Homo sapiens: one gene and its partners. The protein of the gene in region 3 purifies or fractionates together with the protein of the main gene of each other region. This does not show direct contact. Each region holds a gene or a part of one and is shown on either strand. Other genes may lie near its edges. The genes, in order: LIN28A, DDX27, RBM34 and STAU1.

Region 1 (7,025 bases), about 210 Mb from region 3:
AAACAACAGTGTCAAATATGTCAACAAGGAGTAGTCGTCATAGAAAATGGAGAAGCAAAAGGGATCACTGTGCACTTACCTAGTCCTGGCTCAAGGGAACATGAGTAAGTAGCATTCGTATTTTATGCTGGTGGCTGGGGGGTAATATTCCAAACTGGAACTTAAATGAAACATGCTCTTCATCAAGATGAAGGAACCACAGATTCCTTATCACTTAATTTTTTTTTTTTTTTTTTGAGAAAGTCTTGCTCTGTCGCCCATGCTGAAGTGCAGTGACACGATCTCAGCTCACTGCAACCTCCGCCTCCTGGGTTTAAGCGATTCTTCTGGGTTTAAGCTAGGACTACAGGCGCACGCCACCACACCCAGCTAATTTTTGTATTTCTAGTAGAGACAGGGTTTCACCTTATTGGCCAGGCTGGTCTCAAACTCCTGACCTCATGCCTCCTAAAGTGCTGGGATTACACACCATGCCCGGCCAAATTTTTGTTTTAAGATGATATTGCAGGCCGGGTGCAATACCTCTCTCGCTGTTTCACAGTAACCACCCTGAGTTTAAAGTTAGATTTGTAAGGTCGGGCATGGTGGCTCACAACTGTAATCCCAGCAATTTGGGTGACTGAGGCAGGTGGATTCTGAGCTTGAGGCTCAGGAGTTGGAGACCAGCCTGGGCAACAGGGCGAAACCCTGTTCTCTACAAAATAATACAAAAATTAGCTCAGCATGGTGGCATGTGCCTGTGGTACCAGCTACTTGGGAGGCTGAGGTAGAAGGATCGCTTGAATCTGGGAGGCAGAGCTTGCAGTGAGCTGAGATCGCGCCACTGCACTCCTGCCTGGGTGAGAGAGCAAGAACCCATCTCAAAAAATAAAGATTATATTAGATTTGACTTATTTTTTATTGAGCGGGGTGGGACAAGAGATGCAATTAGTGGGTGAGTTGGGAGGTCCTAGAGGAGCCAGACCAAGAGCCTTCTGGACCCAAGCAATTCCAGCTTCATTTGCTTGCCCAGCTTGTCTTAGGCTGGGACACTCCTAGTTCTAGCTGTGATTCAGCAGGTAAATAGTTAAGAACAAGGGTTGATTGAGTCTGATGGCCTGTTCCCTCCTTTCTTTAATCATCTATAAAATGGAGTAAATACTAATTTTATGGTAGTGCTGTGAGGTTTTACACATGAAAAGTAGTTAGCACTTCGCCTGCTACACATAAATCCTCAGGGAGTGGCAATTATCAACCTCTTCACACTGGGTGGCGTGGGTTAACAGAGAGAACTAAGTGCCAAGCATCTGGTTTTATCCTAACTAGCTATAGAAACTTAGAAGAATATCCCCTCTCTAAGCCCCAGTTGACTGGAGAGTAACACCTTCCTCTATGGACACCTCATAGGTTTATTTTAAGAGGATCATATAAATGGGGACATGCAACAAGAAATTGACTAGTCCTCTCAGGTCACTCACTGCATCACTGGAGGATCTGAGGTCTAAGACTTTTACAGAGTAAACCCCCACCCCTGCAGGTACCTCAGTGTAATCAAGAGATTTAAACTGGTGGTCTCCAGGGGTGGCTCCCTGCCCTCCTCCCCCGCCCCTTTCTAAAACACATAGTTTGAATTCCTCTCTTATCAGATAGGTAATCAGCGTGCAGCCCCACAGAGCCAGCCTCCCAGGGCCTGCATCTGAAAAGCGCCTGAAATTCTTGTACCACCCCCATTCCACCCCCAACCACACACAAAGCAGGGCCCCGCCCCCTTCCCCATCCCCTCCAAAAAGAAAAGACCTTAGGGGGAGGGGCATGGCCTGAGCTCCCCCAGTAGAGCCCAGCCCCAGGAAACAAAGAGTTGACACTGGCTGGTTCTGGTGGTCAGATTCCTGGAGTTCCAAGGAGCAGATCCCTCTTGCATCTCCCTCTCCCTCCTCCCCACATTCAACTGTTTCTTCCTTCCTCTCTATGTTGGGGTTATGGTCACGGGAGAGAACTAGATATAGAAAATTCTTCCTTCCCCAGGCAGTCTTGCCAAAGTCACCATCAGCAGCCATCTCCCTTCTCTGGCTTGCGCACTGCCCACTTCATGGATAGAACCAAACAGGACCCCCTCCCCTTGGGTCTCTTCAGTCCAATCCTGAATTATTGATTCAGATAAATTATTTTAAAGGGGAGGGGGAGAGAAGGCATGACCCATATCATCCTTTCCCAATTTCTTCAAGTTAGGACTGTGGGGAGCCTACATGGGCCTACTGTGTTGGGGAATGTGGCATCAGACAACAGACAGCATTTCTTTTTCTTTTTTTTTTTTTTAAAAAGTCTGGCTCTGTTGCCCAGGCCGGAGTGCAGTGGCACAATCTCGGCTCACTGCAAGCTCCGCCTCCCGGGTTCACGCCATTCTCCTGCCTCAGCCTGCCGAGTAGCTGGGACTACAGGCTCCTGCCACCATTCCTGGCTAATTTTTTGTATTTTTAGTAGAGACGGGGTTTCACCGCGTTAGCCAGGATGGTCTCGATCTCCTGACCTCATGATCTACCCGCCTCGGCCTCCCAAAGTGCTGGGATTACAGGCGTGAGCCACCGCGCCCACCCCAAGCATTTCTTTTTCTTTTTTTGATAACAGGGAAGGAATCTCTCCAGTTAAAGTACTTAGGCCTTCTGATCCCTTCTTAATACCTCAGTAATTGCCTGCCTTACCCTATCCAACCCACACCAAGTACCTCATCCCAGCTTCAATTTATGCCTTTGCAAGCTTAGAGATAGAATGAGCCTTAGGGGTCACTTAGGAAATGTGGAGTTAAAAACAAAAGAAAACATTATAAAAGAAAAAAGTATGAAGAGAAAAAAAAAAAACAACACAAAGGAACCTAAGTGTCCTTTCTCCAGAAGTGGCAACAGAATTTCAGGGTACTTGCTACAGTTGTGCAGATTAAAGCTGGGGTTCTTGGCTCTTCCGCAAGAGGCTATTCCAGATCTTCTTCCAGGGCCATTCCAGCCGGAAGATTCTGTAGTGCAGGTCTCTACCTCAATTCTAGGTTCTTAGCTTGCACAAGCATTTGTTGAATGTCTAAGTACTATGCAAAATAACTGTTACTAATTGATTCTTACTGTAGGCTAAGTGGCATTCTAACCACTTTACGTGTTGTAACTCATTTAACCCTCATATCAAACTGGTGCAGTGGGGTGATATGAAGACCCTCATTTTACAGCTTGAGGACATGGAGGCAGAGGGGTTAATAAGCACCTTGGTTAAAGTCGCAATAAGAGGCAAGAGCTGAGCTGAGTGCAGCTGGCCTAACTCTCCCCAGTGCAATTCATTATGATGCAAGTCACATATATAATTGAAAACTTTCTAGTAGCTACGTTTAAAAAAGCAGCTGATGAAAGTAATTTTAATGATTCAGTCCTGTGGTGTCACATCCCTAACTTAGCTTCATTCCTGGAGGTAAGATTTGGTAAGGGAGAACCAACCGGTTCTCCCAGAAGCAGTTATTCGATGGTGTGTGTGTCAAGGAGGGTGTGTGTCAAGGAGGTTGGTGAAAGGGGTGTCTGGAACAGAAGGCTGCAGGCAGCCAATCCCTCTGATCCCCTCTGCTCAGCCACAGCCAGGCCCTGTAGCTCCTGCCTGGAGTTCTCCACCAGATGGCGCTGCTCAGCCTGTCTGCCCAAAGGTAAGCCCGAGGGCGCCTATACCAGGAGGTACTGAGTGGCCCGCTACCTGGTCTGAGCTGTGAACTCAAGTGTTCGGGTAGATTTATCTCCACAGCTCCTTAGGGCAGTCATCTTGTCCTCCCCGTCCCACCCTGCCCCCACCCAACCACCGGCTTGATCAGGGATAAGAATGAAAGGTTCCTAGACTTTTAGGCCAGAAACTCAGTTCTTATATTCTACTGCTTAGAAAAGCCAAGTCCTGTCTAAATTAAATAACACCACGCTGGGCCAGTCATGGTGGCTCATGCCTGTAAATCCAGCACTTTGGGAGGCCGAGGCAGGCGGATCACCACGAGGTCAGGAGTTCGAGACCAGCCTGGCTAACATGGTGAAACCCCATCTCTACTAAAAATACAAAACATTAGCCGGGCATGGTGGCAGGTGCCTCTAATCCCAGCTACTCGGGTGGCTGAGGCAGGAAAATCGCTCAAACCTGGGAGGTGGAGGTTGCAGTGAGCTAAGACGGCGCCACTGCACTCCAGCCTGGGCAACAGAGAGAGATTCCGTCTCAAAAAAAATAAAAAACCTCGATGGTGAGATCATGTTAAATAAGTCTGTATCAACTGTGTATTCTCCCCCAACTCCTTTGACCTCCCACTCTGACTATGTGGCCAGTGGTTGCTATTCATGCCTGCAGGAAGACAGGAGGCATAGTTTTACCTAGGGCAGTTACTCCAAAAAACAAGAATTCCAGTAGAGTGTGATTAGCAATGTTCAAAAAACTAAATGGCCCTGGTGAATGTTACTGAAAACCACTTGTAAGGCAGGCAGCAGTGTCAACAACCAGAGGGTAGAAACATCCCATATTTGAAGCTTTGTTCAGGATGGTGTCACAGCCTTTACTTTACACTGTCGCCGGGCATCATGGCTCATGCCTGTAATCCCAGCACTTTGGGAGTCCCAGGCAGGTGGATCACTTGAGGTCAGGAGTTTGAGACCAGCCTGGACAACATGACGAAAACCCTTCTCTACTAAAAATACTAAAATTAGCTGGGTGTGGTGGTGTACATCTGTAATCCCAGCTACTTGGGAGGCTGAGGCAGGAGAATTGCTTGAACCCAAAAGTCAGAAGTTGCAGTGAGCCGAGTTCGTGCCACTGCACTCCAGCCTGGGCGACAGAGCAAGACTCTATCTCAAAAAATAAAAATAAAAATAAAAAAAAGACATTGTCTAGAAGCATGTCTCAGAAAGAAGAGGACCCCAGAAGATTCCACAATGTCTTCATGAACCTTCCTACCTCTCTACCAACTTTCTGAAAAATCGAGTCAATTTATTTTTAAGCTGCCTTTTCTTATTAAGACAGAAATAACTCATGGATGACCACTAAATCCGTGGCTTCCACTCTGTCAACAAAAACGAGAGGAACCTCTCTGGGCTCCGAGTGGTGATCTACCCATATTCACTCCACAAACTTTCATAGTGCTATGTTGTGCCCAGGCCATATTCTATGTTGTGCCCAGCCCAGAAAGCGAGCAGCTACAATTGACACCCCTCAGTATCTCTAGTCTTTTTCTCTGAACAAAGATCTCTGCCAACATGGACCCCAGACTGCTAAGTGTACTTCTGATTCACCAAGGTCCTCAAGATGCCCCTTTTCTTATTCATTCCTCAGCCCACCAAATGCATACTAGAAAATTAACCAGGCAGCTAAGTTCCTCCCTTCAAAGAGCTTATGGGTTACATAGAGAAGGGTATAAGACCAGTACCTCAATAACTAGACATGAGGTGAGTAATCAGAGGTGCAGTGTTACAAACCAGGAGGAAAGATTCCGTATATTTCCCCACCCGCCCCCGCAACCCTAACACCAAACCCAGCAGTCCTAACCTAGACCCTGAATAAAGTTGCTCTTACCACCTCCTCACTCATGGCTTTTAGAAAAAGAAGGCCACCTGGCTACAGGGCAATTTCAGCAGTTGTCTAGGTATTGAAAACCTTTTCTCCTAACCCAACTTGGTCCCTTGGTCAAATCTGGGCTTTTGACTCCAAGTCTTCTAATATAGCATTTTAGCCAGAAAGCCAATTTAAACATATTTGAGATTGAAACATATCTGGGTCCTGAGGAGCTATGGGAAAGCAGGGAACTTTTCTTATTTCCAAATTTCTATAAATCTTGAGAGTTTGCAAATTGAGCCACAGGAAACATGAGTTAAGCCAAAACTCTTAAAATGGCCCAAAATGAGGATTTTTGAATTCTTGATGAATCTCAGGAAAATAGTTGACAGTTTAGCTTTCTTGTTCCAGCTTTCCTATATAACTGTGTTTCTCAAGCAGGGATGAGATTTTTGACTCCAAGGGGACATTTGACAATGTATGGAGATGTTTTTGGTTGTCATACCTAAGATGCAACTGGCTTCTAGTGGGTAGAGACCAGGAATACTGCTGTACATCCTATAATACATAGGACAGACTCCCCAGAACAAATTATCCTGCTCAAAACATGTCAATAGTGCTGAAGTCGAGAAACTCTAATTTAAGGGCTTGCTATCTATTTCCCTAACTCTAGAGACAGGCAGATTTCTAGATCTAAAGATGTGTACCTAAGGAAAAGAGTTGTTATAGAAATCTCTTTGCTTTTTGTTTTGTTGTCGTTTTGCTTAGTTTTTGGCTGGGGGTGGGCTTTTCCCCCCACTCATCTACTCTTGAAGAGGATATTACAGCATTTGGGAGAGAGCATAAGAACATTAGTTAACAGGGCATTGGGATCCTAATAACCCCAACTTTGGAAAGGAAAAGAAAATGTTTTTAAATTGCCTTTCCCCCTTCCTCTTTATTTGCAAAGGGGCTCCCTGACCCCCTCCCTCTGGTAGATGCTATCTTAGGACAATTACCTTCTCACCAGCCCACCCCAACCCCAGGGTGCCCAACCCCAGCAGCCAAAGAATGGGAAGTTTTGTTAAAGATTTCTTACCCTCTGCTTCGGGAACACTTTCCTCCTCCCCCAGTAAACAATTTATCCTGTGTTTACTAAATTCCTTTACCATAAGATTTCCAGAGAGTCATTTCTAATTTCACAAATGCAGAAGAGTGGTGGCTCATGCCTGTAATCCCAGCACTTTGGGAGGCCAAGGCGGGCGGATCATCTGAGGTCAGGAGTTCAAGACCAGCCTGACCAACGTGCAGAAACCCCGTCTTTACTAAAAATACAAAAAATTAGCCGAGCGTGGTGGCACATGCCTGTAATCCCAGCTACTCAGGAAGCTGAGGCAGGAGAATCGCTTGAACCTGGGAGGCGGAGGTTGCGGTGAGTGGAGATCATGCCATTGCACTCCAGCCTGGCCAACAAGAGCCAAACACCATCTCAAAAAAAAAAAAAAAAAAAGCAACAAACAAAC
Region 2 (7,025 bases), on a different chromosome or scaffold from region 3:
GAAAAAAATGTTCATAGTTTTCAGGTTTCATTTGTGAAGGTTGGTTAAGTCTCAATCAAATCCCACCCACCTAAAGCACTATGAAAACATGTCGGCTGGGTGCGGTGGCTCATGCCTGTAATTCCAGCACTTTGGGAGGCCAAGGCAGGCGGATCACGAGGTCAGGAGATCGAGACTATCCTGGCTAACACGGTGAAAACCTGTCTCTACTAAAAATACAAAAAATTAGCCAGGCGTGGTGGCGGTAGTCCCAGCTACTGGGGAGGCTGAGGCAGGAGAATGGCGTGAACCCGGGAGGCGGAGCTTGCAGTGAGCCAAGATTGCGCCACTGCACTCCAGCCTGGGCGACAGAGCGAGACTCCTCCGTCTCAAAAAAAAAAAAAAAAAAAAAAGTCTTCCAGTTTTTAAGTGGATTCAATCAACACAAAGGCCTCTCCTGGCACCTGTCACCAACACCAACAGATGGCGGGGCACATCCATCCTCCACCCCACCACAGTCTCTCAGGGGCTGGCAGCCCTTGGCCAGAAACTCACCCACAGCCAGGCAGGTGGTGATGTTGCAGAACTGGGCCAGCTGTCTGGTGACAGAGTGCACCTGGATGCCCAGCTCTCGGGTGGGCACTAGCACCAGCACGCGGGTGACTGGAGCCTGGCGGGGTTTATAAATCAGACGCTCCAAAACAGGCAGGGCAAAGGCGGCAGTTTTACCTGGAGGGAGGGACAGCAAGGAAGCAATGAGAAGAAGTTTAGCTCCCTCCAGGGTTAGGTTTTCACCAGAGCACAGAAAAACTACGTCTGGTTGGGGAAAATAAAGGAACTTATTTTTCATAGAATATTTTTTCTGCTTTCAAATCACATGGTCAGGCTCACATATGTAATCCCAGCACTTTGGGACGCCGAGGCAGGCGGATCACCTGAGGTCAGGAGTTCAAGACCAGCCTGGCCAACATAGTGAAGCCCCAATTCTACTAAAAATACAAAAAACTTAGCTGGGCATGGTGGCGGGAGCCTGTAATCCCAGCACTTTGTGAGGCCAAGGCAGGCGAATCACCTGAGGTCAGGAGTTCGAGACCAGCCTGGCCAATATGGTGAAATCCTGTCTCTACTAAATATATAAAAATTAGCCAGGCTTGGTGGTGGGCACCTGTAATCCCAGCTACTCAGGAGGCTGAGGAAGGAGATTCACTTGAAGGCAGAGGTTGCAGTGAGCTGAGAACGCACCACTGCACTCTAGCCTGGGTGACAACAGCAAAACTCTGTCTCAAAAAAAAAAAGAAAAAATACAGCCAGGCACAGTGGCTCATGCCTGTAATCCCAGCACTTTGGGAGGCTGAGGCAGGTGGATCATGAGGTCAGGGGTTCAAGACCAGCCTGGCCAAGATAGTAAAACCCTGTCTCTACTAAAAATACAAAAATTAGCCGGGCATGGTGGCGTGTATCTGTAATCCCAGCTACTCAGGAGGCTGAGGCAGGAGAATCGCTTGAACCCGGGAGGCGGAGGTTGCAGTGAGCCAAGATTGCGCCACTGCACTCCAGCCTGGGCAACAGAGCGAGACTCTGTCTCAAAAAAAAAAAAAAAAAAAATTTCCTCCTCTGATATGGCAGGGCCAGGAGGCCATGGTCACAGAGATCAGGGATACCCCAAGAGGATTAAATGAAAATGACCTTCATCAGACCCTTTGAAACTTGTGGCCCACTACTAGACCGGACATCCTCTCATGCACTGTTTATCTTACAAAATTAATCCTTCAGTATGCCAGGCACGGTGGCTCACACCTGTAAATCCCAGCACTCTTGAGAGGCTGAGGCAGGTGTATCACTTGAGGTCAGGAATTCGAGACCAGCCTGGCCAACATGGTGAAACCCTCTCTCTACTAAAAATACAAAAATCAGCCGGGTGTGGTGGCGGGCACCTGTAAACCCAGCTACTGGGGAGGCTGAGGCAGGAGAATCACCTGAACACAGGAGGCAGAGGTTGCAGTGAGCCGAGATTGCGCCACCGCACTCCAGCCTGGGTGACAGAGTGAGACTCCATCTCAAAACAAAAAATTAATCCTTCAGTAAACTGAGTAAGCTCTGCAGTCTAGGAAACACTGTTGTATCAGTGCCAATTTCCTGGTTTTGATTTTGTCCTACAGTTATGTGGGATGTCACCATTGATGAAGGATTCGAGAGACCCTATGCACTATTTTTGCAACTTGCCACTGATCTACAAATACTTCAAAATAAAGTGGTTAAAAATTTAAAAGTCCTTTACTCTCGGCCGGGCGCGGTGGCTCACGCCTGTAATCCCAGCACTTTGGGAGGCCAAGGCGGGCGGATCACGAGGTCAGGAGATCAAGACCATCCCGGCTAAAACGGTGAAACCCCGTCTCTACTAAAAATACAAAAAATTAGCCGGGCGTAGTGGCGGGCGCCTGTAGTCCCAGCTACTTGGGAGGCTGAGGCAGGAGAATGGCGTGAACCCGGGAGGCGGAGCTTGCAGTGAGCCGAGATCCCGCCACTGCACTCCAGCCTGGGCGACAGAGCGAGACTCCGTCTCAAAAAAAAAAAAAAAAAAAAAAAGTCCTTTACTCTCTCAATTGCACCAGTATATCTTTTTTGTGTTACAAAAATTTTATGGCCAGGCACAGTGGCTCATGCCTGTAATCCCAGAACTTTGGGAGGCCAAGATGGGAAAATCGATCGCTTGAACCTGAACCTAGGAATTCAAGACCAGCCTGGACAACAAAGTGAGACCCCTATCTCTACAAAATAAAAAATAAAAATGAAATAGTTCAAAAAACCAAGAATATTTATTTAGCAAACCAGCCTTTGGTAAGTCAACCTAGAGCCCAGCCCTGGCCGTAACACCCTTCTGCCCACCCTGGGTCCCTATCCTTTTCACCTGTCCCAGTGGCTGCACAGGCACAGATGTCCTTCCCCAATAGACCCACAGGTATGCACGCCTTCTGGATCGGGGTGGGCTGCTTGAAGCCCATGGCTGTAATGGCCTGAGGAAAAAAGAACTGGGTCAGACAGGGTTGAGCGGGGGAAGTCTCAGCACAACACAAACAGGGCAGGTTTCCAGACAAGTGGGGACCACACCAATCCCCACCAATCATTCGTTCCACAAACATTCACTGAACGCCTACTATGTGTGAGGTGGTGCTCTAGACACTGAGGACACAGCAGTAAATAAAAGAAATAAAAACCCTGCCCTCAGGAATCTTACAGTCTGGTAGAAACAGACCAAAAAACAAACACATGTCATATGGAGAGATGCTGCGGAAAACAATGCAGCGGCCAGACGGGCAGCAGGGGGAGTGCTATTCACGGTAGGGCTGCCAGGGAAGGTCTCACTGAGCAAGGGATACTGAGTTGAACCCTGAAGGAAGCTAGAGAGCACCCCAAAAGATTTCTGGAAGAGTTTTCCAGGCAGAGGGAACAGAAAGTGCAAGGGCCCTGAGGAAGAGGAGGCCTAACCTATTTGAGGGCCAGCAAGGAGGCCAGTGTGGCCAGAGCAGAACGAGTGCCAGGAGGTGTCGTCAGAGAGGGCCAGAAGGGGCAGAGCCTTGTAGGTCAATATAAGGACTCAGGCTTCTAAGAAGAGTGAGACTGGGAAGTACTGAAGGACTCAGAGAAGAAGAGGAGGGACACGATGGAACTCATTGCTTAAGAGAGTTCTCGGCCGGGCGCGGTGGCTCACGCCTGTAGTCCCAGCACTTTGGGAGGCTGAGGCGGGCGGATCACGAGGTCAGGAGATCGAGACCATCCTGGCTAACACGGTGAAACCCCATCTCTACTAAAAATACAAAAAATTAGCAGGGCGTGGCAGCGTGTGCCTGTAGTCCCAGCTGCTGGGGAGGCTGAGGCAGGAGAATGGCGTGAACCCGGGAGGTGGAGGTTGCAGTGAGCCGAGATTGTGCCACTGCACTCCAGCCTGGGCGACAGAGTGAGACTCCGTCTCAAAAAAAAAAAAAAAAAAAAGGGAGTTCTCTGGCAACTGTATGGACAAGAGTTGAGGGAGGCAAAGAGAGAAGCAGAAAGTCCAGTTAGGGGTGGCTGCAATAATCCCATGGTTGCCAAAATAAGCCACTACTGGCCAGGCACAGTGGCTCAAATCCCAGCACTCTGGGAGGTTGAGGCAAGAGGATTGCTTGATGCCAGGAATTTGAGACCATCTTGGACAACATAGCAAGACCATGCTTCTACAAAGAAAATTTTTGACAAGAAGCTGCTACCTTCAGAAGAGGGCGGGAAAGGTTCATGTCCTGGAACGAGAGGTTTTCATCGTACTGAGATGCATCTTCAAAAAATCCTCCTGCTTCCTACACCAGAAAACCAAAAGAGAGAAGAGAATTCAACAAAAAGAGCCAAGAAACCCAAACGACCTTAAACTCCTTTCGGTTTGCCAACAAGCTGCATACTGTCTTGCAGCCCCAAGCTCACCTGTCCTTTCTTCTTCTTCTTCTTCCGATCCTTTACTTTGAGTGTATCTATGGAGAAAAACTTAGCTGATGACCACGGCTCAGACTTACAAAGCACTTGCATCCTGCTGGACACTGTCCTAAGTGCCAATGCCACACTTCAGCCTCTGAGGGGTGACCATCGTCAACCTTGTTTCACAGATGAGGACACTTTGTGGCAGCATGGTGAAGTAACTTGCCTAAGGTCAGAGAGAAAGCTAACCCAGTGACTCTGGTCCAGAGACCAGGCTCTCGACCACTACACTGTATTATGATGCTTTAGCACACATTTCTGCAAGAAATACTTATTGAGGGCGGAAGCAGTGGCTCCCGCCTAAAATCCCAGCACTTTAGGAGGCCGAGGCAGGTGGATCACCTGAGGTCAGGAGTTCGGGACCAGCCTGTCCAACATGGTGAAACCCCATCTCTACTAAAAATACAAAAATTAGCCAGGTGTGTTGGCGTGTGCCTGTAGTCCCAGCTACTTGGGAGGCTGAGACAGGAGAGTTGCTTGCACCCGGGAGGCAGAGGTTGCAGTGAGCTGAAATTGTACCACTTGCACTCCAGCCTGAGTGACAGAGTAAGACTCCATCTCAAAAAAAAAAAAAGAAAGAAAGAAATACTTATTGAGCACCCACTATGTGGCTGGACCCATCTGAGTATGTCACCCCAAATGAGTTTGTATCACAGTGGCATCTGGCAGCCGCATGGGGCTAGATGGGAAAAGAGTAAACTACCTATGAAGTACAACAACCCAAACAAAATCCCAAGAGAAAAGAAAACCTAAAAGAAAGGATTCAGCGGGCACAGTGGCTCACGCCTGTAATGCCAGCACTTTTAGAGGTCAAGGCGGGAGGACTGCTCGAGCCTAGAAATTTGAGACTAGCCTGAGCAACAAAGCAAGACCCCGTCCCTACAAAAAAAAAAAATTAGCCAGGCGCAGGGGCATGCACCTGTAGGCCCAGCTACTTAGGAAGCTAAAGCAGGAGGATCACTTAAGCCAGTGAGTTCAAGCCTTCCAGTGAGGTATGATTGCACTACTGCACTCCAGCCTGTGGATGGAGTGAGACCACATCTCTTTTGTTTTGTTTTTTGAGACAGGGTCTCATTCTGTGGCCCAGGGTTAAGTTCAGTGGGACAATCTCAGCTCACTGCAACCTCTGCCTCCCAGTTTCAAGTGATTCTCGTACCTCAGCCACCTGAGTGGCTGGGATTACAGGTGCATGCCACTACACCAAGCTTATTTTTGTATTTTCAGTAGAGATGGGGTTTTACCATGTTGCCCAGGCTGGTCTCAAACTCCTGGCTTCAAGCGATACACCCACCTCAGCCTCCCAAAGTACTGGGATTACAGGCATGAGCCACTGCACCCAGCCAACATCTCTTAAAAAAAAAAAAAAAAGAAAGAAAGGAGTTCAATGTAGTAGGCAGAACAGCTTAAAGATAAACTGTGCAGAAGAGTGGAGGAAACCCTACAAAGTAAAGGAGGATGCCTTCTGATCTCCTGTCCCCATTACTGACACCTCCGCCGTAACGTCTACCTGCTTTGGTGAGGATGTTCTCATCAGCTGATGAGTAGTCAGTCTCCGAGGCTTCATCTTCTGAGCCTTCCTCATCATTCTCTTGAAGGTCTTCCTGCTCCTTTGGTTCAGAGCCTTCCTTTGCTTCTTTCTCCTTTTCCAACTTCCCAGACTTGGCTTCTTTATCCTGGGAAAAAAATTAAAGTGAGGGTGATGAGAAACTTCTAGAAATCCAGAACCTAAGTAGAGCGATAGGAAGCTCTCCGGCCTGAATGAACGGCTGTGGGGATTCTCAGTACAGATTCACAGCAAACACACAGAAGAGTGCGCCTGCCCCAGCCATGCCCCGCTCTATAAGGGCTTCCAGAGAGATGCTGGGGTCGTGGTGAGAGTAAAGAGTGGGCCCTAACAACGAAAAATAGCCACTTTTCTTCTCACCTCTGTTTTCCTTTTCTTTCGAACTTTCTCAATCTTCTCATCTAATGTAGTGGCTGCCCTCTGCAGATAAAAATAAAGAGGTGAAAAAGAAATTTTCATTGAAACATCGAATAAGAGAACAAACTCTTCATAATTAACTTGAAAAAGAAAAAATTTTGGCCTTCTCTGAAAATACATATACATATTATATATATAAAAATTTTAGGCCGGGCGCGGTGGCTCACGCCTGTAATCCCAGCACTTTGGGAGGCCGAGGTGGGTAGATCACCTGAGGTCAGGAGTTCGAGACCAGCCTCAACATGGAGAAACCCTGTCTCTACTAAAAAAATACAAAATTAGCCGGGTGTGGTGGTGCATGCCTGTAATCCCAGCTACTCGGGAGGCTGAGGCAAGAGAATTGCTTGAACCTGGGAGGCGGAGGTGGCAGTGAGCCGAGATCACGCCATTGCACTCCAGCCTGGGCAACAAGAGCAAAACTCCGTCTCAAAAAAAAAAATTTTTTTAATCCTCTCCAGACGATCTTGAAAATGCAGTGCTGGTAAGGCTGAGCACAGTGGCTCATGCCTGTAATCCCAGCTACTCAAGAGGCTGAGGCAGGAGAATCGCTTGAACCCAGGAG
Region 3 (7,025 bases):
GACAAGAGTATATCCTGTATGATGACTCTACTTATATAAAATTCTGGAAAAAGCAAACTAACACATAGAGACAGAAAGCAAATGAATGGCTGCCTGAGGACAGAGGTGGAGGGACATATTGCAGAGGGTTAGAAGAAACTCGAGATGATAAAGTGTTTGGTATCTGGACTATGGCAGTGGTTTCAAGATTGCCTACATATGTTAAAATTATAAAATTGTACATGTCAAATATGTGCAGTTTACTGGAAGTAGCCTTAATAAACTAAAAAAAAAAAAAAAAGGTTTTAAACATTTTGGCTATAAGAAAAAGGAAAAAAGTTTTACATGGCAAAATTTCCCATAAGCCAAGTCAAAAAGCCAACAAGCTAGGGTGTGGTGGTGTGCACCTGTAGTTCCAGCTACTTGGGAGGCTGAGGCAGAATGATTACTTGAGCCTAGGAATTCCAGGCTATAGTGGACTATGACTGAGTCACTGCACTTCTGCTGGAGAACAAAGCAACACTCTATCTCTTAAAAATAAAATAAGGCCCAGCGCGGTGGCTCATGCCTGTAATCCCAGCACTTTGGGAGGCCGAGGGTGGGGCAGATCACCTGAGGTCATGAGTTTGAGACCAGCCTGACCAACATGGGGAAACCCCGTCTCTACTAAAAATACAAAATTAGCCAGGTGTAGCGCACATGCCTGTAATCCCAGCTACTCAGTAGGCTGAGGCAGGAGAATCACTTGAACCAGGGAGGCGGAGATTACGGTGAGCTGAGATCACGCCATTGCACTCCAGCCTGGGCAACAAGAGCAAAACTCCGTCTCAAAAAATAAATTAAATAAATAAACAAATAGCAAATGACAAATAGAGAAAAATATTCATAATTCATGTCACAAAAGACTGATTTCATGAACATCCCACAGATCAATAAGACTAATAATTCAAATAAAAGAAAGCACAAATGACTCTTAAATTACATGACAAGATGCTCACTCATAAGAGAAATTCAAATTAGAAATACCACACTCAGGTTTCCAACAACCACAAAGCTCAAAAACATACTTTTTTTTTTTTTTTTGAGATAGGGTCTCACTGTCATCCAGGCTGGAGCGTAGTGGTGCAATCATGGTTCACTGCAGCCTCCATTCTCCGGGCTCAAGTGATCCTCCCACCTCAGCCCCCAGAGTAGCTGGACTACAGGCGTGCACCACCTTGCCCAGCTAATTTTTTTGTTTCTTTGTAGAGATGAGGTCTCGCCACGCTGCCCAGGCTGGTCTCGAACTCCTAGGCTCATGCAATCCACCCACCTCAGCATCCCAAAGTGCTGGGATTGCAGGCATGAGCCATCTTCCCTGGCCAACATACTGTTTTTGTAAAGTAAAAGACTTTACTGTTGGTAAAGATGTGGGAACATAAATAGGTTGCAATCTCTACGAGACAGCAGTCAAAATTGTGAATGCAAATACCCTTCTGACTGAGCAATGCCACTGCTAGAAGTTTATCCTACAGATAAGTTTAGCTTATGTACAAAATTACCTAAGTACAAGGTCACTCATTTACTCCAACATTATTTGTTTTGTTTTGAGAGAGCGGGTCTTGCTTGTCGCTCAGGCTACAGTGCAGTGGTGTGATCACAGTTCACTGAAGCCTCAAGCTCCTGGGCTCAAGTGATCATCTCACGTCAGCTTCCCAAGTAGCTGGGACTACAGACACGTGCCTCCATGACCAGCTAAAATATTACAGCAGGTTTTTTTTTTTTTTTTTTTTTTTTTGGAAGACAGGGTCTCACTCTATCACCCGGGCTGGAGTGCCAGGGGTGCAATCATAGCTCCACTTCCTGAGCTCAGGTGCTCCTTCGTCTGATTCCCAAGCAGCTGGGACTACAGTGCACAGCATCATGCCCAGCTAATTTTTTGTAGAGATGGGGTTTTGCCATTTTGCCCAGGGAGGTCCTGGGCTCAAGCGATCTGCCCACCTTGGCCTCTAATGGTGCTGAGATTACAGGCGTGAGCCACTGCACCCGGCCTTCAGCATTATTTGTAATGGTCATGAGACTGGGAAAAAACTTTATGTCCATCAGTGGGAGATTTGATAAAATAAATTAAGGCACACCTAGAGAATACTCTAAGAAAAAGGGCATTTTTAAAAAATGCTATAAAAATAATCACTTTCACACCAATATAAACAGATCTCCAAGTTGTACTAAGCAGAAAAAGGGAAGGTGTGGAGTAGTGCATATATTAAATACCAGTGAGTTAAACTGTTTTATGTGGGAAGAAGAACATCTATGCGTATCAGTTTTTAAATGCTAAGATGTCTCTAGAAGCTTACATAAGAAACTAAAAACACTTGCCTAGGGTAGGGAATTGGCTGACTAGAGAAAAGGTGTATAATTAAATTTTATTTATTTATTTATTTTGAGACAGAGTCTAGCTCTGTCACCAAGGCTGGAGTGCAATGGCGTGATCTGGGCTCACTGCAACCTTCATCTCCTGGGATCAAGCGATTCTCTTGCCTCAGCCTCCCAAGTAGCTGGGACTACAGGCATGTGCCACCACACCCTGCTAATTTTTCTATTTTTAGTAGGGACAGTGTTTTGCCATGTTGGCCAGGCTGGTCTCAAACTCCTGGCCTGAAGTGATCCACCTACCTCGGCCTCCCAAAGTGCTGGGATTACAGGTGTGAGCCACCACAGCCAGCCATCATTAAATTTTAAATTAAAAACAACAACAAAAAGGCAGTGGCTCATGCTCATAATCCCACTGCTTTAGAAGGCTGAGGCAGAAGGATTGCTTGAAGCCCGGGGTTCAAGACCAGCCTGAAAAACATAATGAGACTCTGTGTCTACAATAAAATAAAATAAATTAGCCAGGGTGGTGTGCACACCTGTAGTCCCAGCTACTGGGGACACTGAGATGGAAGCATCACTTGAGCCCAAAAGTTTAAGGCTACAGTGAGCCAAGATCTTGCCACTGCACTCCAGCCTGGGTGACAGAGCAAGAGCTTGTATGTTAAAAACACAAAACAAAACAAAGAAACAAAAAAACAATGAGATGGGGCTGGAGGAGAAGCTGACGGTATGGTGTGAAAATTCCAATTTTCTAACATATCCCACTAAACTCCTCAGTAGTACTTGTACATACACCTGTCAGAACCTCTGTTTCTGTTCAAATTTAGGCTCCTGGGTTTCAACTTCATACAGAAATAAAAGTATGACTCAAAAAGAAGGGTTGTATCTTACTAAGGTTTCTAGTCACCACAGCACTGAACAATGCCTGGTATCTAGGAGGATCTGCATCTTTGGTTACCTCAGCAAACACTGTGGGAATCTATATATTTATCAACTCTTAACTATACACCTGGCACTGTGATGGTTATGAGGAAAAACCGGCGAAGACCTGGTCGGCCAAATAACTCCAAATGAAGACTCAATATTGAAATGAAGTCACCAAGATGTCCAAAGGGACTGTTGCCATACAAAAGCTTGATAGAACAGGATTCCCAGAAATGTTTCTAAAGTACATTATTATATTTTATCTAATATAAAGAAATATCTGCTTATAAACTTCATCATTTCATATACCATTAAGAGAGAAAAACACCCAAGATATGAGACTAATAGGAAACCGGCATAAAGCTGAAGGTAAATGAAAAATAAGCCTTCCATATGGAAGGGCGAACAAGGAGACTTGTAGGTTTCATTCTTGACACTGAGTGGGAAACAAAAAAAATCCCCTGAGCACTGGTAACAAGCCACCACCAGTGTGGTCCAAAACCCTCAAACAGAGAACGCCAAGTGGTCACAGGCTGGCAGTATACCCAGGTGACCAGCACAAGCAAACATGAATTCTCTCTGGAAAAACACAGGAAATATGGCATTTGTAATCTGTATGAGAAAATTTAGGCATGAAGCTTTACACTCTCTTCCAAACACTAAAAACATTCTTAAAATTTCTCATGGCTCATTTTCCAGTAATATTTTCTACGACTCTGTAAATTATATTATGGCTTAAAGAAAAACGTGACAAATCTAAAGGCTCTCAAATACAGAAGCAAACAGTCAATCATGCTCTATTATCCAAATATATTAATAAAATCTATGCAATTGTTAAGAAATGGTCTCACTTTTTAGCCAAAAAGGAAGAAAGTTTAAGGTGACTCCCTTTCTCTAATTATAAACTTACTTTATTGCTGCCAACTTTTTGGATAGCGTTCCCTCTGCTGGAATCTTTCAAGAGAAAAAAAAAAGTATTAAAGACAGTATTTGAAGTATTACCTCAAATTAATATTTTAAGTGAAGTCTAAGTATCTAACTCCAGTACACTGTGATCAAAAACATTCTAGGGAAATAAACAAATCAGAAACAACTGTCCTAATTTTTTTTTTTTTTTCCTGTTGAGATGGAGTCTCACACTGTCACCCAGGCTGGAGTGCAGTGGCATGATGTCGGCTCATTGCAAGCTCCACCTGCTGGGTTCACAACATTCTCCTGCCTCAGCCTCCTGAGTAGCTGGGACTACAGGCGCCCGCCACCACGCCCGGCTAATTTTTTGTATTTTTAGTAGAGATGCGGTTTCATCAGGTTAGCCAGGATGGTCTCGATCTCCTGACCTCGTGATCCGCCCACCTTGGCCTCCCAAAGTGCTGGGATTACAAACATGAGCCACCACGGCTGGCCAATCATCTTAATGCTATATGAAACGAAGCTCGTGGCTTAGGATAAGTTTTTCCAATGAAACCATCATGCTCAGATTTAACAGGCAGGGACTCAAAAACCCAGACAGAAGTTAAGATACCGGGCTCTCAAATTGCATCAGATGACTCCTACAGGGAGGACTCCAGGAAGAGACACCGACGATGAAAGACACATGAAAAATGTAAGGAAAAGGCCGGGCGCGGTGGCTCACACCTGTAATCCCAGCACTTTGGGAGGCCAAGGCGGGCGGATCACGAGGTCAGGAGGTTGAGACCATCCTGGCTAACACGGTGAAACCCCATCTCTACTAGAAATACAAAAAAATTAGCCAGACGTGGTGGCGGGCGCCTGTAGTCCCAGCTACTCAGGAGGCTGAGGCAGGAGAATGGCGTGAACCCGGGAGGCGGAGCTTGCAGTGAGCCCAGATGGCACCACTGCACTCCAGCCTGGGCGACAGAACGAGACTCCGTCTCAAAAAAAAAAAAAAAAAAAGGAAAAATGTTAAGGAAAAAGAAATGTTTATAAATTAACATTTTATCGTGTATTCTAATAAATTTTTAAATATGTCTAACTGAACTGATGAATAATATAAAAAGACATATCACCTGTATCTCTAAGAGTTTATATATTAGCCAAAAAAATGCATGGTGTCCATCATGCAGGTAAGGGAATCCCCTTTATATTCAGGTTCACTTTATTTCCAGTCATATATAGCCTCCTTTAAGAGTGGATGGGGCAGGTAGGGAAAACTTTATGGAAGAGGCAGAAATACACGTCAACAACTACAGCTGTCGACAACATGCCAAATGCAACCAGGTACTGAGAAGATCAAGGTGAAAAGATACCAACCCTGCAAGTTCACAATCTAGAACATAAATGCCATGTAGGGTAGTTATTATAAATCTTTTCTGGAAAACCTATTTTCTTTCTCAGTAACCTGATAGTTTACATAGTAAAACTATGAAATTTTAACTATTTCTTCTGTTTGCAGTTTATCTTGCTAAAATTGCTAACATAGTCAAACTCTCAAACCTCAAAAAAACAGTACAAGACACAGAAATGGCTAAATGAATAATCAACATGTGAATGACATCATCAAAACACATTTATTGGGTGCCTTCTGTACAGCGTCTACGTCCCGTTATTTGTTTGGTTTTGTTTTATTTTGTTTGTTTTTGAGACAGAATCTCGCTTTGTCGCCCAGGCTGGAGTGCAGTGGCACAATCTCGGCTCACTGCAACTTCCGCCTCTCAGGTTCAAGCGATTCTCCCATCTCAGCCTCCCGAGTAGCTGGGATTACAGGCCCCCGCCACCATGCCCAGCTAGTTTTCGTATTTTTAGTAGAAACGTAGTTTTGCCATGTTGGCCAGGCTGGTCTCGAACTTCTGAACTCAAGTGATCTGCCTTGGCCTCCCAAAGTGCTGGGTTACAGGCATCAACCACTGCACCCGGCCTACATCCTGTCATTAAAGATATTAATACATAAGTACAACATAAGGCAATAAAGTACAGGAATAATGCAGAGGAAAAAATATCACTTAATGATATAAAGTATCGGAAAAGCTTTGAAGAAGGGACATTTTTAGCCACATACTGAAAAATACTTTCATAGGCAAAAATGGTACTTTAAGGAAGGATTCCAGGCAAAACAAATGGACTGGCAAAGGGACAAAGGTGAGAAAACCCACGTGTAGAGGAACACAGGAGAGGCAGGGCCACACTGGAGAACTGCCAAGCTAAGAATTAAGGATGTATTTCACTGACAGAATAATTAACACAATGTACAGGTGCTGGTAACCCAAGAAGAAGTAAGACAGAGTATTTGTAACCACAGCTTACAGTCTGGTGGAGGAGGCAAACGACAATTTCAGTAGAGTGTACTAAGTACTGTAATGAGGGATGGGTGCTGTCAAATGCATAGCAGGGACACACTGGTAGCCTAGAGACTGGGGAGAATCAAGGTAGGCTCCCCAAAGGGGAGAAGGCAATAGCAGGCCCCGTGAGGGGTGTGTGTGTGGCGGCTGGGGGGATGGGGGGAAGGGCGTTTCATTAATGCAAGGCAGGGAAAGAGGTAAGGGTTCCGGGAAGAAGAGCTTCAGGAAGACTGAGTTCACAGTGTTTTGTTGGACAAATTAGAGGAAGACTGAAGGTAAGGAACTACAATAGGCCTCTGCGACTATTCTGACAGGAGGTAATGAGAACTTAGGTAGGACAAGGAAAAAAGAAAGGAATGACTCATATTAGGAAGAAATCACAGTTGAAAAACGGACAGGAGTGGCAAACACTAGCATGGGTGAGCCAATGAAGAGTCAAAGGCAACCACAAAACCTGCAGCCTGGGTGCCA
Region 4 (7,025 bases), on a different chromosome or scaffold from region 3:
TCCACCCTGGGTGACAGAGTGAGACTCCGTCTCAAAAAAAAAAAAAAAAAAAAAAAAATTTTTTTTTAAAGTCATTCTAGCAGGTAGTCAGTAGTATCTTGTTGTGGTTTTAATTTATATATCTCCATGAAGACTAGCAATACTGAGCTTCTTTTCGTGTTTTTATTTTACTATTTTCTTTGATGAAATATAGGTTTATATCTTGCCAGTTTTTTTGAGTGTCTTTTTATTATTGAGTTTTGGAGGTTCTATATATATTCTGAATTCAAGTTTTTTCTCAGATAAGTATTTTGCAGATATTTTCTCTTAAGTCTGTGGCTTGTCGTTTGATTTTAAGTGACTTTCAAAAAGCAGAAGTATTGAATTTTGGTGAGGTGTAGTTTGTTAAATTTTTTATAGTTAATAATTTTTGTGTATGCTGAGATACATTTGGCTAACCTAAAGTCATTTTCCTTAGAAATTTTAGTTTTAGCTCTTACATTTAGGTTTATAATTCATTTCGAGTTAGTTTTCATATATACTGTGACATAAGGGATGTTTTTGTCTTTTTTTTTTTTTTTTTTTTGGATTTGGATGTCTAATTGTGCCTGCACTGTTTGTTGAAGAGACAGTCCTTTATTTTTTGAGACAGAGTTTTGCTCTTGTCGCCCAGGCTGGGATTACAGGCTTGAGCCACCATGCCTGGCTGAGACAGTCCTTTATTAAATAACCTTTGCACCTCCCCTCTTCACATTTTGAGAACTTCCATGCTTTCTGATACAACAAAATGTTTTAGCCTCACTTTGAACTTCCCCTGCTCTAGCTTTAGCCCCAGTGGAAACATAAATTTCTAATAGAAATGGTCTTGGCCATTCCTCCAAGAAGATCCGGTTCCTTCTAATTGGGAGTGGTGTGTAGAGACAGGACAGGGTGCTAGCATGCTTGTTCCTGCTGGAGAGCCATGGCTCTCGGTTAGGAGATAGAGCTAGGAAATATGTATATTTTGAAATAACAAGTTTATTTTATTTGATTTTAGAGAAAAGAACTCACTTGGTACCCGGGCTGTAGTGCAGTGGCATGATCTCACCTCACTGCAACCTCGACCTCCTGAGCTCAAGTGATCCTGCTGTCTCAGCCTCCCAAGTAGCTGGGGCTACAGGCACACGCCACCACACACTGGGCTAATTTTTGTATTTTTTTTTTTTCCTCTGAGACAGAGTTTCGCTCTTGTTGCCCAGGCTGGAGTGCAATGGCGTGATCTCAGCTTACCGCAACCTCTGCCTCCTGGGTTCAAGCGATTCTCCTGCCTCAGCCTCCCGAGTAGCTGGGATTATGGGCATGCGCTACCACGCCCAGGTAATTTTGTATTTTTAGTAGAGATGGGGTTTCTCCATGTTGGTCAGGCTGGTCTCAAACTCCTGGCCTCAGGTGATCCGCCTGCCTCGGCCTCCCAAAGTGCTGGGATTACAGGCGTGAGCCACCGAGCCCAGCCAATTTTTGTATTTTTTTTGTAGAGACGGGGTTTTGCCATGTTGCCCAGGCTGGTCTCAAACTCCTGGACTGAAGCCATCCACCCGCCTTGGCCTTCTCAAAGTGCTGGGATTACAAGAGTGAGCCAATGTGCCTGGCCCCTTTTTTAGTTTTTTTTGTTTTTTAGACAAAGTCTTGCTCTGTCATCCGGGCTGGAATGCAATGGCGCGATCTCAGCTCACTGCAACCTCCGCCTCTGGGGTTCAAGCATTTCTCCTGTGTTAGCCTCTTAAGTAACTGGGATTACAGTCATGTGTCACCACACTCAGCTAATTTTTGTATTTTTAGTAGAGACAGGGTTTCACCCTGTTGGCCAAGCTGGTCTCAAACTCCTGACCTCAGGTGATCCACCCGCCTCGGCCTACCACAGTGTTGGTATTACAGGCGTGAGCCACTGCACCTGGCCCCCTTTTTTACTTTTTAAATGTCTTTTGATGAGCAGTTTATTTTTTATTTTATTCATTTATTTATTTTTGAGATGGTGTTTCGCTCTTGTTGTCCAGGCTGGAGTGCAGTGGTGCCATCTCAGCTCACTGCAACCTCCGTCTCCTGGGTTCAAGCAATTCTCCTGTCTCAGCCTCCTAAGTAGCTGGGATTACAGGTGCCCGCCACCACGCCCAGCTAATTTTTTATATTTTTAGTAGAGACGGGGTTTCACTATGTTGGCCAGGCTGATCTCGAACTCCTGACCTCGTGATCTGCCCACCTCGGCCTCCCAAAGTGCTGGGATTACAGGCGTGAGCCACCGCGCCCGGCCAGTGGTTTTTAATTTTGAGGAATTTCTTTTTTCTTTATGGTGGATATCTTTTGTGTTCAACTCTTTGCCAGCCTTACAGTCTTGAGGCTTTCTCCTGTTATAAAGTCTTTGTAATTTTAGTTTAGATCACATTTAAGTGATCCTAGGTCTAATTTTTGTTGTGGTATGAGTTAGAGATCATGGTTTGATTTTTTTTTCTTCCCCCCACCCCGCTCCATGCAGATACCTAGTTAGTTGCTCTGGTACTATTTTTTTAAGAGATTTTTAATTTGTTTTGGTGTGTTTGCCAAAAATCGAGTGACCTTATATGTGCAGGTCTTTTTCGTGCTGTTCTGTTGATCTATTTATCCTTACACAAAACCATATCCTAGTTGTTGTGACTTTATAGGAAGTTTTAAAATCTGGTAGTGTAAGTCTTCTATTTTTCTTTTTGAGTGTCTTGGCTAATATCGGTTAGATTTTTAAGTTTTTTTGTTTTTTTTTTGTTTTTTTTTTTTTGCTTTTTGAGACGAGGTTTTGCTCTGTTGCCCAGGCTGGGGTGCAGTTGTGTGATCATAGCTCCCTGTAGCCTTGATCTCCTGGGCTTAAGTGATCCTCCTGTTTTAGCCTCCCACATAGCTAGGACTACATACAGGGGCACACTACCACACCTGGCTAATTTTGTTTTTATTTTTGTAGAGTCAAGGTCTTGCTGTATTGGCCAGGCTGGTCTTGAACTTCTGAGCTCAAGTGATCCTCCCACCCTGGCCTCCCAGAGCGTTGGGATTACAGGCATGAGCCACCCTGCCCAGCCTGATTTTCTATCTGTGTTATTGTAATCACTTTCTTGATAATGTCCATGATACACAAAAGTTTTAAAGTTTGATTAAGTGTGACTTTTTTTTTTCCCTCTTGTTGATTGTGCTTTTAGTTTCATATCTTAAAAACCAATTGCCAAACCCAAAGTCATGAAGACTCGCCTGTTTTTGCTTCTGAGAGTTGTGCATGTTAGCGCCTCTGTGTAGGTCTTTGGTCCATTTGGAGATTGTAATCACTTTAATATGCAGCTAACTTTCTGTTCATGTTTAATTTTAGATTCTTTCCCCATCTTTGTTGACTTAGTTTTATTTCTTTAATATGTAAAACAGTAAATGCTTCCAGAAGTCAAAACTATCATTCCCGTCTCATCCCGTCTGTCTACCCTAATCCCTCACACCTGTTGTAGGTAACTAATTTCATTGCTTGCTTTTTGAGACGGAGTCCCACTCTGTCACCCAGGCTGGAGTGGCGCAATCTCAGCTCACTGCAAGCTCCGCCTCCCAGGTTCACGCCATTCTCCTGCTTCAGCCTCCCGAGTAGCTGGGACTACAGGCGCCTGCCACCACGCCCGGCTAATTTTTTTTGTATTTTTAGTAGAGACGGGGTTTCACCATGTTAGCCAGGATGGTCTCGATCTCCTGACCTCGTGATCCACCTGCCTCGGCCTCCCAAAGTGCTGGGATTACAGGCGTGAGCCACCGCGCCTGGCCCATTGCTTGCTTTTTTTTTTTTTTTTTTTTCCTTTGAGACAGGGTCTTACTCTATCGCTTAGGCTGGAGTGCAGTTTTGTGATCTTGGATCACTGCAACCTCCGTCTCTCAGGTTCAAGGGGTTTTTGTGCCTCAGCCTCCCAAGTAGCTGGGATTACAGGTGTGCACCACCACCCCTAGCTAATTTTTGTATTTTTAGTAGAGATGGGGGTTTCACCATGTTGGCCAGGCTGGTCTTGAACTCCTGACCTCAAGTGATCCACCCGCTTTGGTCTCCCAAATTGCTGGGATTACAGGTGTGAGCCACCATGTCCAGCCCATTGATTTTTTTTATCCTTCGTTTTTTTTTTTTTTTTTTTTTTTTTTGCAAAAATGAGCTTATAAATGTGTGTCTGTTTATATATGTGTAGATATTTGTATAAAATCCTATTTTTCTTAAACTAAAGCTACCATACCATATACTCTTTTGTGGGTTTTTTTTTTTTTTTTTTTTACTTAATGTGTGCGGGGAATCCCTCTTTATCAGTGCTTAAGAGATTTGTCTCGTTCTCTTTTGTGGCCACATAGCAACCAGTATTTAGTAGGCCTAGTCCTGGCTGGAGGCTCAGAGCAGATACTAAACTTGAGCATTTGTACTGCATTTATTTCTGGACTTTGCTGGGCTAGCTTCCTTTTTGCCAGTTGCAGTGGACCACACTAAACTCAGGACAGCCTGTGAGCCAGGGGCATGGGAGTAAAAAGGTCTCCCTATTTCATGCCTGACTGTTTGGGACTCACCAGACTCAAGAGCATAAACCAGTTTGAGAAGTAAGAAGAAAGGCGAGAAAGCATTTGAAATGATCCCCGCTTCCTTTCATTTAGTAGGTCTTGTCCTTGGTTCCCCTTCCCTGTGTCTGTGTGAAGTGTGCCAGCCAGTGTGCCTTGGAGCTTTTAATAAGTGTCTGTCCGCTTTCACTCAGTCTTTCCCTCTGAAACAGGTGGCCCGGGAGAGTGGCCCACCCCACATGAAGAACTTTGTGACCAAGGTTTCGGTTGGGGAGTTTGTGGGGGAAGGTGAAGGGAAAAGCAAGAAGATTTCAAAGAAAAATGCCGCCATAGCTGTTCTTGAGGAGCTGAAGAAGTTACCGCCCCTGCCTGCAGTTGAACGAGTAAAGCCTAGAATCAAAAAGAAAACAAAACCCATAGTCAAGGTGAGAACTTTTCTGAACACAGAAGGTGTTTTCATTACTTATAGATGGGTGGGGGGTTTAGAAGGCTGGTCGCTGTCCCCAAGGTGAAAGGGGATGAGACCAACGTGCCACACCCCAGGCCTGCCAGACCCCTTAGAGGTGCTGCAAGAGCCACCTGTTAGGTAAGATAAGGACATTGTGTCAGTTCAGTAGAGGTACCCGCAGACGGGCACACACATCTGTGCAGGAGGGCGCTCATCACAGCCCTGGCGATCACAGTGGGGTATTGGGCAGGAACGCCATGCCGGTCTGTGGGGCGCGTGGTGAAATAACAGTGCCTGTGTCTCAGTGACCATGTTGCTGTTCTGAAGGTGGAGGAGATTTGTGCCAGGCAGGAGGCCCATAGTGGGAGGGTAGGAGTGAGACATTTTGCTGTGTGCCTTTTCTTTTGGATTTTTGAGCCACACTAATGGATCTATCAAAGCATTATATTGACCCCTTCCCCAACCCCAGAAAGGGGACATAATTCCATGGGGAACTTTGTGATTTTCAGTATATGTAGTTTCATGCTGTATCAAGATCCAAATTTTTCTTACATAAAAGCATACTATGTATACCTTTTGTTTCCCTTTTTTGCTTAATATAGCCTGGAAGTCACTTCTGATCAGCAGAGTGAGGGTTCCTTGGCACAAAAGGTGGCCTCAAGGAAGTAACTGGGATTCTGAGGTTCTTCTTGCCATGTGGCATCAGCTTGAGCTTTTTTAAAAAAGTGGTTCCTGGATTTTGAGTTCTTTTCAAGAAAATTGGGAACCCATCATAGCTCAGACTTTTGGGGAGTTGTAGGAATAGTGTTTTATGTTTTTTCTGCCCATTTACTGTCATATGTTGAAATATGTTAAAAAACAGCCGTCGCAGTCATAGTGACGCTTCGTTATAGTGAAATGTTGATGTTGGTTTGCTAAGACCTTAAAATCACCTAGAACAATCATAAAAAAAATAAAGCATCTTTTCATTGTTAAAATGTTAAATTAAAAAAAATCGAATTCTGAGCCATTAGGTCAACCCAAAATCTCTTATCTCCTCTCATATCCTGATCTCTGAGTTGACCAAGTTCATGCGGTGAATAACATTACAGAGTTTCTGCCTTGTTTGTTCCTCAGCCACAGACAAGCCCAGAATATGGCCAGGGGATCAATCCGATTAGCCGACTGGCCCAGATCCAGCAGGCAAAAAAGGAGAAGGAGCCAGAGTACACGCTCCTCACAGAGCGAGGCCTCCCGCGCCGCAGGGAGTTTGTGATGCAGGTGGGTCCGCATGGATGATGGGCGCCCCTTCCTCTGACCACGTCCAGCCTTGGGGGCTGATGGCGGTTCAAGGTCTGGACACCTTCCTGAGGAGGCTGGATCCTGTGGGCCATGTTCTGCCAGCGACTGTGATCCTTATTTATTTATTTATTTATTTATTTATTTATTTATTTTTGAGATGGAGTCTCACTCTGTCGCCCAGGCTGGAGTGCAGTGGTGCTGTCTCAGCTCACTACAACCTCCGACTCCCTGATTGAAGCGATTCTCCTGCCTCAGCCTCCCGAGTAGCTGGGATTACAGGCACGTGCCACCATGCCCAGCTAATTTTTTGTATTTTTAGCAGAGACGGAGTTTCGCCATGTTGGCCAGGATGGTTTTGATCTCCTGACCTTGTGATCCTCCCACCTCAGCCTCCCAAAGTGCTGGGATTACAGGCGTGAGCCACCTCGCCCAGCCAACTGTGATCCTTATTAAGACCTTGTGGCTTGCAATAATTTGATAGCTTAAACATACCACAGAAATCTGTAAAGGCTACATATCAAAGATTAAGTTGTTTATCTTAATGCTTAAAAAAATGAATGTAATGTCTGCACACCAGCACTACTGCTGGGTGCACTGGTGGGAATGTGGGTGTGTTGCACTGAAATTTGGAAGAAAGAGTCCTGGGGTGGTGGGTGCTGGGAGAAGTTTTTCTTCATTACATCTCCTTGAAGGTTTATGACATTGCTCTTTACCAAAGGTAAATTTTGTAAGTAGTATCAAGAGATCTGTTCCTCTT

What was found.
Region 1: the proteins of RBM34 (region 3) and LIN28A purify together in Homo sapiens (affinity purification with mass spectrometry; 2 studies listed by BioGRID and IntAct, with this or other methods). This does not show direct contact.
Region 2: the proteins of RBM34 (region 3) and DDX27 purify together in Homo sapiens (affinity purification with mass spectrometry; 3 studies listed by BioGRID and IntAct, with this or other methods). This does not show direct contact.
Region 4: the proteins of RBM34 (region 3) and STAU1 purify together in Homo sapiens (affinity purification with mass spectrometry; 3 studies listed by BioGRID and IntAct, with this or other methods). This does not show direct contact.

The regions. Positions count from the first base shown.
Region 1 is NC_000001.11:26,413,813-26,420,837, reverse strand, and holds part of LIN28A (protein lin-28 homolog A), read right to left. Parts: intron 1-7,025. UniProt on the Homo sapiens protein: RNA-binding protein that inhibits processing of pre-let-7 miRNAs and regulates translation of mRNAs that control developmental timing, pluripotency and metabolism.
Region 2 is NC_000020.11:49,222,398-49,229,422, reverse strand, and holds part of DDX27 (probable ATP-dependent RNA helicase DDX27), read right to left. Parts: intron 6,467-7,025; coding exon 6,407-6,466; intron 6,156-6,406; coding exon 5,990-6,155; intron 4,479-5,989; coding exon 4,432-4,478; intron 4,311-4,431; coding exon 4,224-4,310; intron 2,994-4,223; coding exon 2,888-2,993; intron 709-2,887; coding exon 535-708; intron 1-534. UniProt on the Homo sapiens protein: Probable ATP-dependent RNA helicase. Component of the nucleolar ribosomal RNA (rRNA) processing machinery that regulates 3' end formation of ribosomal 47S rRNA.
Region 3 is NC_000001.11:235,144,236-235,151,260, forward strand, and holds part of RBM34 (RNA-binding protein 34), read right to left. Parts: intron 4,213-7,025; coding exon 4,169-4,212; intron 1-4,168.
Region 4 is NC_000020.11:49,122,314-49,129,338, reverse strand, and holds part of STAU1 (double-stranded RNA-binding protein Staufen homolog 1), read left to right. Parts: intron 1-4,733; coding exon of another isoform or gene 4,734-4,751; coding exon 4,752-4,964; intron 4,965-6,103; coding exon 6,104-6,247; intron 6,248-7,025. UniProt on the Homo sapiens protein: Binds double-stranded RNA (regardless of the sequence) and tubulin.